4 linked regions of the Homo sapiens genome follow. The protein of the gene in region 1 purifies or fractionates together with the protein of each later gene. This does not show direct contact. Each region holds a gene or a part of one and is shown in the gene's direction. Other genes may lie near its edges.

Region 1 (3,500 bases):
TTTCCTTTTTTTTTTTTTTTTTTTTTTTTTTTGAGACAGAGCCTCCTTCTATTGCCCAGGCTGGAGTGCAGTGGTACGATCTCGGCTCATTGCAACCTCCACCTCCTGGGTTCAAACGATTCTCCTGCCTCAGCCTCCTGAGTACTTGGGATTACAGGCATGCACCACTATGCCTGGCTAATTTTTGTATTTTTTAGTAGAGATGGGGTTTCACCATGTTGGCCAGGCTGGTCTCGGACTCCTGACCTCAAGTGATCCACCCACCTTGGCCTCCCAAAGTGCTGGGATTATAGGCATGAGCCACTGCGCCAGGCCTATTGGCCTCTTTTATTTGCATTGCTGCCTCTTTCTGTCACTGACCACCCCACCATCTCCCCCTCCCACTGGTCCTATCCTATTTCCCCTCTCCCTATGGCACCCTCTTAGCTGGTGTGGGGGGGCAGGACTCCCCAGCCCAGGTTCCCTGGCTCCCATCCAATGCCTGGCCTGGCCGGGGTGACCTTTGCAGTGACAGGCTCCCTGTCAGAGCTCCAGATTAGCTATGTCTGCCGGGAAGTGCTCCAGGTAAGGAGAGGCCTGGGGATTCTGGGGATGGGAGGGGAGGGTGGCCCCACTCCAGCCCCCAAACACTCACTGTCCCCTTGTCCACCCTTCTCCCCAGGGACTGGCCTATTTGCACTCACAGAAGAAGATACACAGGGACATCAAGGTGGTCTGGGGGTGTAGGGGTGCTGTTGGGGGGTGGGGCCCAGGAGATGGGAGTGGCATTTCAGGGGCTCAGGGATCAGGGTAGTTTGAGCTGGCGGAGTGGGCTAGCACTGGGCTGGGGAGAGTCTCTGCAGCCTCCCATATCCCCTCTCATTCCCAGGGAGCTAACATCCTCATCAATGATGCTGGGGAGGTCAGATTGGGTGAGTAAGGCTGGGGGTTGAGCAGGGGGGCTGACTGGGGGGCCGGAAGCGCAGTGGACCCCAGATCACTATGTCTCCCTCTGCTTCCAGCTGACTTTGGCATCTCGGCCCAGATTGGGGCTACACTGGCCAGACGCCTCTCTTTCATTGGGACACCCTACTGGTGAGTGGCGCCCAGCGGGCAGCTAGGGGTGGAGTGGGGGTCAGTGGTTTTTCCTACCCTGGTTCCCCGGGATCCTCTTTCCTGGCTCCGTTCCCCTGCCTCGTCCTTTCTCCTTGGAAGATTCTTTCATTCTCTCTGGGTGTCGCTTGAGTTTTCCATTTTCCTCTCTCTTTGTGCCCTTTTCTGGCCATTGCTCTCGGTGTTTGTGTTGATTTTTATCTTGATTTCTCTGTCCCTCCATATCCATTTCTGTCTTTTTCCTCTAGCTCAGTTTGCAGTGCTCTCTGTCTCTTTGTTTCTGTCTCTCTCACTCTCTGTCTCTGCCTCTCTGTCTTTTCATTTTGTTTTGTTTTTAGAGACAGGGTCTCACTCTGTGGCCCAGGCTGGATTGCAGTGGCATAGTCACGGCTCACTGCAGCCTAGAACTCCTGGGCTCAGGAGATCCTCCCACCTCAGCCTCCCAAGTAGCTGGGACCACAGGTGTGCACCATGACACCTGGCTAATTTTTAAAATTTGTGTAGAGATGGTGTTGTTTTTTTTTTTTTTTCTTTTTCGTTCTTTTTTTTTTTCTTGAGACGGAGTTTTGCTCTGTTGCCCAGGCTGGAGTGCAGTGGCATGGTCTCAGCTCACTGCAACCTTCACCTCCCAGGTTCAAGCAATTCTCCTGCCTCAGCCACCAAGTAGCTGGGATTACAGACGCCTGCCACCACGCCCGGCTAATTTTTGTACTTTTAGTAGAGACGGGCTTTCACCATGTTGGTCAGGCTGGTCTCGAACTCCTCACCTCAGGTGATCTGTCCGCCTTGACCTCCCAAAGTGCTGGAATTACAGGCAAAAGCCACCGTGCCCAGCCGAGATAGGGTCTTGATAAGTTGCCCAGGCTGGTCTCAAACTCCTGGGCCTAAGCCATTCTCCTTGCTCAGCCTCCCAAAGTGCTGGGATTACAGGCGTGAGCCATCGCGCCCCGTCTGCATCTCTGTCTTCATCTGCCTGTGTCTGTCTTTACTCCTGTCCCTCTGTCTCTCCATCTGACTCTCTGTGTGCTGCGTCTCCCCTCAACTCCTTCTCCTTCTCTGCCCCTCCTTCCCTTCCTGTCCCCATGCCACCTCTGGCTCTCTGAGCGTGTCTGCCCCCAGGATGGCTCCGGAAGTGGCAGCTGTGGCCCTGAAGGGAGGATACAATGAGCTGTGTGACATCTGGTCCCTGGGCATCACGGCCATCGAACTGGCCGAGCTACAGCCACCGCTCTTTGATGTGCACCCTCTCAGGTAGGCAGGCGTGGGGTCCCCAGGCCCAGAGATCCTGTCTAGCCCTGGCCCAAAGCCCACCCTCAGCTTCCGCCTTCCATCCCAGGAACCTCCAATTCAGGGATCACCACTTGAGCCTACCTTTGCACGTGCTGCAGCTCTATTTTTTAAATTTAATTTAATATTTTATTTTATTTTATTTTTTATTTTTTAAGACAGAGTCTTGCTCTGTTGCCCAGGCTGGAGTGCAGTGGCACAATCTTGGCTCACTGCAACCTCCATCTCCTGGGTTCAAGCTATTTTCCTGCCTCAGCCTCCCGAGTAGCTGAGGCTGCAGGTGTGCACCACCACGCCCGGCTAATTTTTGTATTTTTAGTAGAGACGGGGTTTCAACATGTTGGCCAGGGTAGTCTCGAACTCCTGACCTCAGGTTATCTGCCCATCTTGGCTTCCGGAGGTGCTGGGATTACAGGCGTGAACCACTGCACCCAGCCTATTTATTTATTTTTATTTTTATTTATTTATTTATTTTTGAGATGGAGTCCCACTCTTGTTGCCCAGGCTGGAGTGCAGTGGCAAGATCTCAGCTCACTGCAACCTCTGCCTCCAGGGTTCAAGTGATTCTACCACCTCAACCTCCCAAGTGTGGGATTACAGGTGCACGCCACCATGCCTGGCTAATTTTTGTATGTTTTGGTAGAGACGGGGTTTCACTATGTTGACCAGGCTGGTCTTGAACTCCTGACCTCAAGTGATCCACTTGCCTTGGCCTCCCAAAATGCTGGGATTAAAGGTGTGAGCCACCACGCCCAGACATTTTTTAAATTAATTAATTAATTCTTATTATTTTTAGAGACAGGATCTGGCTCTGTCACCCAGGCTGGAGTGCAGCGGCACGATCGTAGTTCACTTCAGCCTTGAATGCCGGGGCTCAAATGATCCTCCTGCCTTAGCCTCTCACATAGCTGGTCCTACAGACCCATATTGCCACACCCAGCTATTTAAAAAAAAAATTTTTTTTTTGTCTCACTATGTTGCCCCAGCTGGTCTCCAACTCCTGGGCTCAAGCTATCCTCCCGCCTTGGCCTCCCAAAGTGTTGGGATTACGGGCGTGAACCACCACACCTGGCCTTGCCATAGCTCTATCACTTCATAAATGGCTTCCCTTAGGAGAGGCA
Region 2 (3,500 bases), on another chromosome or scaffold:
GTGGAATTAAGAGTACCAGCCTCACCAGCTTGGCTGACGTGGCGAAACTCCTTCTCCTCTAAAAATACAAAAATTCGCCGGATGTGGTGGCATGTGCCTGTAATCCCAGCTGGAGGTTGAGGCAGGAGAATCACTTGAACCCGGGAGGCAGAGGTTGCAGTGAGCCAAGATCACGCCACTGCACTCCAGCCTGGGCAATAGAGCAAGATTCCATCTCAAAACAAAACAAAAAACCTCCCCCCAAAAAAGCAAAGAGTACCAGACTCACAAGTATGGTTATGAGAGCTACATGATATAGTATATAGCAAAGGAATTTATTAGTTTAAAAGTACTATGGAAATGTTAATTTTGGAAATGTGAGGTAATATTTATAAGGCACTTAGAACAATGCTAGCCACATAGTGTTTGTTAAATAGATTAAAACAGTCCTAGTAATATCGTTATCTAGGAATACACAGTTCATGTTATTGCACCAAAGCTACTTCTGAAATGACTAAAGATAGCCACTTGGTTCAATATACCTGAGAAAATAGAGTGTAAGTTTTATTAAAAATGTTAGTCTGTAATGCAAACTTCAGTCACTTGGGAAATCCCTTTCCCCACAAACAGTTTAGTAGTGAAGTTGCACTCTATGGACAAAATTACCTACTATCACAAAATAAAAAAGTGTATATTCAGCGCTCTGAGGGCCAGGTATGAACAGCGATGTCACTCTGAGTATGGTAATCGCACTACCAGAAGCCTCTGCATTTGCCATCATAACAACAAATGTTCTGTTCTTATTTTGTCAGAAATACTCGGAGATCAATTAAACTAGATGGAAAAGGAGAACCCAAAGGGGCGAAGAGAGCGAAGCCAGTGAAGTACACTGCAGCAAAGCTGCATGAGAAAGGTGTCCTGCTAGATATAGATGATCTTCAAACAAACCAGTAAGTGTGACCTGGAATCTGCATAGAACACGCATGCCATTTGATTTCTTGTGGCCTTGGAGAGAGCTCCATTTGGTCTAGCAAGGCTTAACCTCAATTACTGATGGGTGACAAGGGAAGAATACACAAATTGTTATGGCTACTCTTCCCTTGGCCTCAGCATCTGGTGCTGTCAGTCATATGTAGTGTTGATCAGTGGTTGTCTTTCCCGTGGCTTGTGCAATATGTTTGGATTGGTGAACCTCCAGAACTGAGTCATAGCAATGAGAGTAAAAGGCTGTCTTTTGGTCTTGATGGATGAATTATCTACCATTGCAAAATAGCACCTTTCTCATTTAAAATAGGCTGTGCCAACCCCTGGATCAGAGCCATTTCCAAAGCATGCTGTGAGTGTGTGTATTCGGTGTAGTGGAAAAAACAAACCCTCCTTCACAGCCCCACATCAGGCACCATGTGCTGCCTCCTTTTAAAGGGGTCATGAGCCCAGTGTTCCATCACTTTCTTGTCCTAAAATCTCAAGGGAAGCCAGACTCACTGGCATTTGCCTTTTCTTTAACTCCTGCCTTCCTTCAAAGCCTGACTTCTGTTTATCCCATGAAACCTCCTGACAACACCAACTCAGAAGAAAATGCTTCTTCCAGAGATGGAGTCTCACTCTGCGGCCCAGGCTGGAGTGCAGTGGTGGGATCTTGGCTCACTGCAACCTCCACCTCCCAGGTTCAAGCGATTCTCCTGCCTCAGCCTCGCGAGTAGCTGGGATTACAGGCACATGCCACCGCCCAGCTAATTTTTGTATTTTTAGTAAAGATGGGGTTTCACCATGTTGGCCAGGTGATCCGCCCGCCTCGGCCTCTGAAAGTGCTGGGATTACAGGCGTGAGCGACTGCGCCTGGCCTGAAGTTTCTATAAAAGTTATCATCTGAAATACTCAATTGGCTATAGGTCAATAATGTTCATGTTCTGTGACTCACATATTTCCAATTATGTTTTATGCTCTTGAAGAGCAAGGACCGTATCTTCTATTTCTTTTGTAATAAAGCACCTATGTCAGAACTCTATGAGCTACAGATCTCAACAATAGCCATCAAACCTAGTGTTTGGAGAGCAGAATTGGGGGAAAGATGACGTGAGGTTTTTGGTGACTTCCTTAGGATTTTCTCAACAAGCCATTATTTAAAAATGATTATTTGAGATTCCATTAGTTTGTTTCAGCTTTAAGCACATCTGTATTTGTAATTTCTCATGTATGAATGTTCCTTTCTTCACAGGTTTAAGAATGTTACATTTGATATCATAGCTACTGAAGATGTAGGCATTTTCGATGTAAGATCAAAATTCCTTGGTGTTGAGATGGAAAAGGTGCAACTCAATATTCAGGTAAGCTGCTGGAATTTCTGCACATTGATGATAAATTTTATATGTGGATCATACATTGCTACCCTGGCTCTCTCTCTTCAGGACAACAATAAAGTTTAACAGAAAACCAGTGCCAGCCTTATTTGCCAATATTTGTTAAGTGTTGATGATTTTTAAGAGCTGTGACTTTTCAAATGATTGGAAATTGATATGCTTCTAGCTGGCAAACCATAGCAGTCAGTTTCTCTAAGCCATGTTTCCATTTTAAAGCTTAGACAAAAGAATATAATTTAAAAGTATTCAGAGCTATTAAATAAATGCTATAAATTTTCCTTTTATTGGAAACTTGCATTTCTTTCTAAGACTATGTATGCCCAGGACTGGAACTTTCATGATCTCATTTTTCCCTCTCTCCTAGAATGGTTTTTCTTTTTTGTGGGGGGAGGGGGTGGGGGTGGGGCATTGAGAAGGGGTCTTGCTCTGTCGCCCAGGCTGGAATACAGTGGCATGTATGCCCAGGACTGGAACTTTCATGATCTCATTTTTCCCTCTTTCCTAGAATGGTTTTTCTTTTTTGTGGGGGGAGGGGGTGGGGGGGGGCATTGAGAAAGGGTCTTGCTCTGTCGCCCAGGCTGGAATACAGTGGCACAATCATGGTTCACTGCAGCCTCAACCTCCTGGGCTCAAGCGATCCTCCTGCTTCAGCCTCTCGAGTAACTGGTACTACAGGCACACACCACCACATCTGGCTAATTTCTGTATTTTTTGTAGAGACAGGGTTTCACCACGTTGCCCAGGCTTGTCTTAGACTACTGGGCTCAAGTGATCTGCCTGGCTTAGCCTCCAAAAGTGCTGGGATTACAGGCATTAGCCACCACACCTGGCCCCTAGAATAGTTTTTACGTCAATTTATTAACTCTATTTGTCAAATGCTTGGGATCACAGGAATGAAAGGCATTATGCAAAACAGATATCTATACATAGAAAAATGGTGTTTGCAATATAAATTATCGTTATTTTATCATAAGAGCCACATTTAAGCCAAATACACGTAAATGAAAACCGAGAAATCCAGTTTCTGTGCAAAAAAAAAAAAAAAGAGAGCACTGCAAACAAATGTTCATCTGCCCCCAACTTCTTAATCCTTAGCACAAAACCAATTTAAAGAAGTAATTTATTTTTCTTTTTTGATGTAACACTTTTTAAATGGAAATA
Region 3 (3,500 bases), on another chromosome or scaffold:
GCGGATCACCTGAGGTCAGGAGTTCGAGACCAGCCTGGCCAACATGGTAAAACCCCGTTTCTACTAAAAATACAAAAATTAGCCAGGTGCAGTGGCAGGCGCTTGTAATCGCAGCTACTTGGGAGGCTGAGGCAGGAGAATTGCTTGAACCTGGGAGGCAGAGGTTGCAGTGAGCCGAGACTGTACCATTGCACACCAGCCTGGGCAACAAGAGTGAAACTCTGTCGCCAAAAAAAAAAAATAATGGTGATGGCTACACAATGTTATAAATATTAATGCCAATATTGTAAATATTAGTGCCACTGAATTGTACACTTTTAAATGGTTAAAGTGGCAAATTTTGTTTATATATATATTATTTTTACTGCAATAAAAGTTTTTAGTGTGATATAAATAAAACAATTTTCTAAATTAAAAAATGAGATTTATTTTTATATTGTAAATATTTTTATATTATAAATGCTTAGTTTTTAATGTTTTACTAATATCTTAATCAACCTATATACTTGGGGCATTTAATTTTTAACAGTAATGGATAGAAGCTTATACTTCAAGTAGTAGCAGTAGTCTTGATGATTTAAAAGAATTTTTTTTTGGCTGATGTTGTCAGATATAATAGATTGTTTTTAACCTGTGGCTGCTGAGGAGCTCACTAAGAACAGAAGCTGGCTAGGCGTGGTGGCTCGCACCTGTAATCCTAGGACTTGTCTGAGGTTGGTGGATCCCTTGAGGCCAGGAGTTCAAGACCAGCCTGACCAACATACCGAAACCCTGTCTCTACCAAAAATACAAAAATTAGCCAGGCGTGGTGGCTCACACCGGTAGTCCCAGCTACTCAGGAGGCTGAGGCAGGAGAATCACTTAAGCCAAGGAGGCGGAGGTTGCAGTGAGCTGAATCATGCCACTGTACTCCAGCCTGGGCGACAGAGTAAGACTCTGTCTCAAAAAAAAAAAAAAAAAAGTTTATTTTCTGACATTTTTATGTTTATTTGCACTTGTGTTAATAGAAGTATTTTCTTAATTTTTTAAGTTACCTTCCCATATTGTGAAGATTTGTTTATGTAAATTTAATGCTACCTGTATTCAACTACCTGTACATCTCACCTGCATAACTCTCATTTCAAACCTGTAATTGTTTTAGTAAAAAAAATGTTATTTATAGAAGTTTACTTTGCTGTTACAAGAAGATTTATTTTTCAGGTGCACGAGAAACAGACTACCCTGCAGGAGAAGATCTTTCAGAATCTGGTCAGGTAGACAAAGCATCTTTATGTGGAAGTATGACAAGCAACAGCTCAGCAGAGACAGACAGCCTGTTAGGAGGCATCACAGTGGTTGGTTGTTCTGCAGAAGGTGTGACGGGAGCTGCCACTTCCCCTAGTACAAATGGTGCTTCTCCAGTGATGGATAAACCACCAGGTATATCCATTCTCTTTACCTGCCATCTGTATAGAGTCTAAGGCTACACTCAGATGCCTCATTATGGACTTAATTTAGATCTTAAGTAACAAGGTTGAAAGAACTTGAAAGAAGATACTGTAGGCCGGGCGTGGTGGCTCACGCCTGTAATCCCAGCACTCTGGGAGGCCAAGGCGGGTGGATCACGAGGTCAGGAGATCAAGACCATCCTGGCTAACACAGTGAAACCCTGTCTGTACTAAAAAGTACAAAAAATTAACCGGGCGTGGTGGCGGGTGCCTGTAGTCCCAGCTACTCGGGAGGCTGAGGCAGGAGAATGGCGTGAACCTGGGAGGTGGAGCTTGCAGTGAGCCAAGATCACGCCGCCGCACTCCAGCCTGGGCAACAGAGCAAGACTCTGTCTCAAAAAAAAAAAAAATGCTGTAATGACTGTTAAATGGAATGAAGAATTCTTAATTTCATGGTACAGTGTGAAGGAGTGGGTAGATGGAATGGAATTCTATAACAGGGGTTTGTGTGGGGAAATAATTGGAGGAGAAAAGCCCAGACTTGGAATAGTGTTTTATTTACTTTGTAGAAATGGAAGCAGAAAATAGTGAGGTTGATGAAAATGTTCCAACAGCAGAAGAAGCAACTGAAGCTACAGAAGGGAATGCGGGGTCAGCTGAAGACACAGTGGACATCTCCCAAACTGGCGTCTACACAGAGCATGTCTTTACAGATCCTTTGGGAGTTCAGATCCCAGAAGACCTCTCCCCAGTGTATCAGTCGAGGTATAATAATGGGTCATCAACTTAGGCAACTGGGTGAAGTGCACAAATAAAAGGAACCAAAATAATCTCAAACAGTCAAAAGATTTCCACTAATTAGTGTCACTGTGGTGGATTAAAAGATACCTATTCTTGTGATAATTTCATGTATTCCCGCTCCATCATTCTCGCTGGATATTCCCCCCCATTTCTTCTGTACACCTTCCAATTTAAAAAAAAAATCTTATCTATAAAAGTATAATCATGCATCAGTCAACAATGGGGATATGTTCTGAGAAATGTGTCATTAGGTGATTTCATCATTGTGTGAACATCATAGAGTGCATTTACACAAATCTAGATGGTATGGCTTATCACACACCTAGGCCATATGGTATAGCCCATTGCTCCTAGGCTAGAAACCTGTACAGCATGTTACTGTACTGAATACTGTAGATAATTGGAACATAACGGTAAGTATTTGTGTATGTAAACATGCACAAGGTACTGTAGAAATATAGTAGTATAATCTTGTGGAACCACCACCATATATTCTGTCCATCATTTTCCAAAATGGTTTTACCAGGTGTGTGACTATATATTAGTCAAAATCTTTCTGTTCATTTTCTCCTCTGATCTGTTTTTTTTTCTTTTTTTTTGTACTTACTGTCTTCCATTCTATAAGTAATTCTTTGTCATTTTAATCCCACCCCTACTCTAATTTTCACTCCAGTTATCAGCAAAATTGGCCATTGTTTAAATCTGCCATTGTACAAGTTTCCCACATGGGTGTGGATGACCTTTTTGAATTTAGTTTTCATGCAAATATTTTATTAAAAAACAACTCAGATAGTTCCAGTGGCTCATGCCTATAATCCCAGCACTTTGGGAGTCTGAGCAGGAGGATTGCTTGAGTCCAGGAGTTCAAGACCAACCTGAGCAACATAGTGAGACCCTCATCTCTACAAAAAACTTAATGATTCGCTGGGCGTGGTAGCGTGCACCTATGGTCCCAGCTACTCAGGAGGCTGAGGTGGGAGGATTGCTTGAGCCCTGGGAGCTGGAGGCTACAGTGGGCCATGATATCACCACTGCACTGCCGCCTGGGAAACAGAACAAGACTCTGTCTCAGAAAACAAACAAACCAAAGAAAACTGTTTGTTTTAGGCTCCTCCGTTAAAGGGTTGGTTAATCTAGGCCCATTTAGTGAATTATTTTATTTTCTTTCCTGCCTTTTCTAGATCCCCTCTAGATGAGAGTCTCTTTAAACTAGATCCTTTTTAAAGTTTAATATTCTTAGTGTATAAAGTAAGAAAGATTAATTAATAACCC
Region 4 (3,500 bases), on another chromosome or scaffold:
ATTTCTATAGTTTGTTACTAGATAGAGAAGTTTCTCTGAATGTGTAGAACACCAGGGGGAAAGAAAACCTTAATTTTAAAAATGTTCAAGATACTTTGAAATGCCTGTCAGTTTGGTTAACGTTAATAGAAGGTACAGTTGACCCTTGAGCAATGTGGGGGTTAGGGGTGCTGGTTCTGCAGGCAGTCAGAAGTTTGCATATAACTTTTGACTCCCCAACAACTTAACTACTAATAGCCTACTGTTGACTGGAAGTCTTACTGATAACATAATTATCAGTTAACACATATTTTGGGTGTTAAATGTATTATATCCTGTATTCTTACAATAAAGAAAAGGAAATGTTATCAAGAAAATTATAAGGAAGAGAAAATAATTGACTCTTCATTAATTGGAAGTGGATTATCATAAAGGTCTTCATCTTCATAGTTTTCATGTTGAGTGGGCTGAAAAGGAGGGATTGTCTTACTGTCTGGGAGTGGCAGAGGCAGAAGTATATTCAAGTATAAGTGGATCCACACAGTTTAATCCTGTGTTCAGGGTCAACTATATAAAACAAGTGCCAGGAAAATATCTATTGTAAAAACCTTTCTTTATCCTAGCAGTTTATACAGGGATCTCTAGATACTTAGTTTTTGTAAGCAAGTAAATTTATTTTCCTAACATTGTCCTAACAGACTTCCTACAAACTAAATTGAAAAGAAATAGGAAAGCTTTTTTTCTCTTTTTTTAAGCACATTAAAATGAAATTCTGCTCTTTGTTTTGTTATGCACATGGGAATACATTCATTCATTTTCCCAACAATTACAGACTACCTACTACTGTGCTGGATCCTGGGTGGTCATATAGATCAATAATACATGTTTGAAGCTATTATGTAATGGAGGAAACCAGATAATAGCAATACAGAATTGTAATTGCTGTGAGAAAGCCATGCACATAGTGCTGTGGAATCACAGAGGGCAGCTAACTCTGGTTTAGCAGTGCAAGAAAGCTTCCCCAAAATAGAATTGATCTGAATCTCAAAGGATGAGAAGGAGTTAGCCAGACTACAACAGTAGGTTTGGGGATAGGAAGAGGTCATGTAAAACACTGAGACCTATTTAAATAAAGCATTTGTATAATATCTCATTAATCGAGATTTCCCAATTTGTAATTTGTCATAGAAAATAGTCTGCAATTTCTCTTGTTTCATGCAAATATATTAAGTCCTCACTTAACATCCCTTGTGGTTCTTGGAAACTAACCTTTGGCAAACTGACAATAAAGTTGTTTCACTGTAACACTGATAAGGAGGAAAATTGTTTTCATTATAGGTTGTTTCAACTAAAATCAGTTAAAATCGAAGTTTCCAAGAACCTATCATTGAAAATTAAGTGAGGACTTAAAAGATTTGTTAAGGATATGTAAGGTAAGTGTTAGTTTAGGGGCCATATTCAACTTAGTAGAATGAAACTTATTCAAGTACTTAGGAAGAACATCCTAATATAAAATATATGGAAGTTGACTAACTAGTAAATAGGTTGTTCAGCATAGATTAAATTCTCTTTTTTTTGTTGTTGTTGTTTTGAGACAGTCTCACTGCAACCTCTGCCTCCCGGGTTCAAGCAGTTCTCTGCCTCAGCCTCCCAAGTAGCTGGGATTACAGGCACCTGCCACCATGACTGGCTAATTTTTGTATTTTTAGTAGAGTCAGGGCTTCACCGTTTGAACTCCTGACCTCGTGATCCACCCTCCTTTGCCTCCCAAAGTGCTGGGATTACAGGCATGAGCCACTGCGCCTGGCCCATAGATTAAATTCTTTGTGAGGCCAAGATTGTAGCTTTGATCTTCATATGGGGTGTTTAGAGGTATTCCATTTTGTGGCCACAAAGTATATTTGTAATCCTAGCCGGCTATCATGAATATTTTATTGGTCACAGGAAGAACCAGCTAAGAACATATGAATAGATCAGTGCAATACTGTCATCATCCTGGAATAACTTGATGCTGTTATATTAAAATCTTGTTAATGGCTGTCAGTTTTGCAACCTAAACTAGTAACACACTGAATTATTGATTTGCTTATGTGTTAATGGCACATAAAGCAATGAGCATTAACACTTGAAGTTTTTCGGTAGTATCATTTTTGTGTATGGAGACTGTATCTGCCATTTTTTCACAATAGGAAGGTTTGTTACTGTATCTTCACAGATGATTGGTTAAGATTGCTTTCCAAAGTCACATTTATTCTCACCTTCACATGGTGTTTTAATGAGCACTTATGAAACTAAATATGAACCATAAAGAGTGGATTGGACTGATTAAATTGAGAGTAATTATGCAGTTTAATCAGTTGGTAATATTGAATCATATGTATTTTTATGTTTAGAGTACAGGATTGTTTTAAATTGTTCTTTTTGACAAGTTGAGATTAGTAGTTTATTGTCAAATAGTAAAGAGATAGCTAATGATTGTGATATACTGTAATAAGATCTATCACTTTATATGATACATTATAAGTTTCAATTATTTCATTTTTGTCAGGCTAAATCTCATTTGCTTTCTCTCCATGAGATATACTTGAGGCAGCAGAAAGAGCAGGTGGGAAGTTAAAGCAACTCATTTAACTGGCCTTTAGGAAAGAAAATGTTTAGATTGACTCAATTTTCTAGTTATCTATTCATCTTATTTAAAATTCCAACCTGCTCTACTCCTTACTCAGGTCTGTTTTGTTTTAATCACACTTAGTACTTTCTAACATAGTATAAATAGTGATTACGTTTGCCTGTCTCCCTTCCCCATTCCTACCCTTGCTAGAATGTAAGGTCCTTAAAGGCAGAGATTCTAATTTAATCTTTTGTCTTCACTGTGTCCCAGAAGCCTAGAATAGTTTTCAGCACATAGTAGATACCCAATAAGGTTAAATTAGTGGTCTCAAATGCTAATACATTTTCAACCTTCTTATAGAAAGAACATACTGGTCGTCTTGTTATAGGAGATCACAAATCAACATCTCACTTCCGAACCGGTAAGAAAGTAAAGTGTAATTAAAATGGAAGTGCTAAATTCAGAATATGAAGTATGTGTTCATGTTTCAGGATATTCTACTTTGGCATGTAATTGTGTAAATTATTAAAATATTATAATTAGAGCTGGGTGCAGTGGCTTAATGCCTGTAATCCCGGTTATTTGGGAGGTTAAAGTGGGAGGATCACTTAAGCCCAGGAGTTTGAGGCTGCAATGAAGCTATGATTGCACCACTGCATTCCAGCCTGGGCTACAGAGCAAGACCTCATCTCTTAAATTTAAAAAAAAAAAGGAGAGAAAAAAATGCTGGGCACCTTGGCTTATGCTTGTAATCCCAGCATTTTGGGAGGCTGAGGTGGGCCGATCACTTGAGGCAAATCACCAGCCTGGTCAACATGGCAAAACCGTGTCTCTACTAAAAAAAAAAAAAAAAAAAAAATTAGCCTGGTGTGGTGGCTCACACCTGTAATCCCAGCTGCTTGGGAGGCTG

What was found. Proteins that work in one complex are often made in the same cells at the same time.
Region 2: the proteins of MAP4K1 (region 1) and IQGAP2 purify together in Homo sapiens (affinity purification with mass spectrometry; one large-scale study listed by BioGRID and IntAct). This does not show direct contact.
Region 3: the proteins of MAP4K1 (region 1) and SPAG9 purify together in Homo sapiens (affinity purification with mass spectrometry; one large-scale study listed by BioGRID and IntAct). This does not show direct contact.
Region 4: the proteins of MAP4K1 (region 1) and C11orf58 purify together in Homo sapiens (affinity purification with mass spectrometry, with the first as the bait; one study listed by BioGRID). This does not show direct contact.

The regions. Positions count from the first base shown.
Region 1 is NC_000019.10:38,611,454-38,614,953, reverse strand, and holds part of MAP4K1 (mitogen-activated protein kinase kinase kinase kinase 1), read left to right. Parts: intron 1-508; coding exon 509-564; intron 565-661; coding exon 662-709; intron 710-868; coding exon 869-911; intron 912-1,001; coding exon 1,002-1,074; intron 1,075-2,211; coding exon 2,212-2,343; intron 2,344-3,500. UniProt on the Homo sapiens protein: Serine/threonine-protein kinase, which plays a role in the response to environmental stress. Appears to act upstream of the JUN N-terminal pathway.
Region 2 is NC_000005.10:76,700,285-76,703,784, forward strand, and holds part of IQGAP2 (ras GTPase-activating-like protein IQGAP2), read left to right. Parts: intron 1-791; coding exon 792-929; intron 930-2,197; coding exon 2,198-2,306; intron 2,307-3,500. UniProt on the Homo sapiens protein: Binds to activated CDC42 and RAC1 but does not seem to stimulate their GTPase activity. Associates with calmodulin.
Region 3 is NC_000017.11:50,988,369-50,991,868, reverse strand, and holds part of SPAG9 (C-Jun-amino-terminal kinase-interacting protein 4), read left to right. Parts: intron 1-1,200; coding exon 1,201-1,419; intron 1,420-1,996; coding exon 1,997-2,192; intron 2,193-3,500. UniProt on the Homo sapiens protein: The JNK-interacting protein (JIP) group of scaffold proteins selectively mediates JNK signaling by aggregating specific components of the MAPK cascade to form a functional JNK signaling module.
Region 4 is NC_000011.10:16,745,147-16,748,646, forward strand, and holds part of C11orf58 (small acidic protein), read left to right. Parts: intron 1-2,950; coding exon 2,951-3,011; intron 3,012-3,500.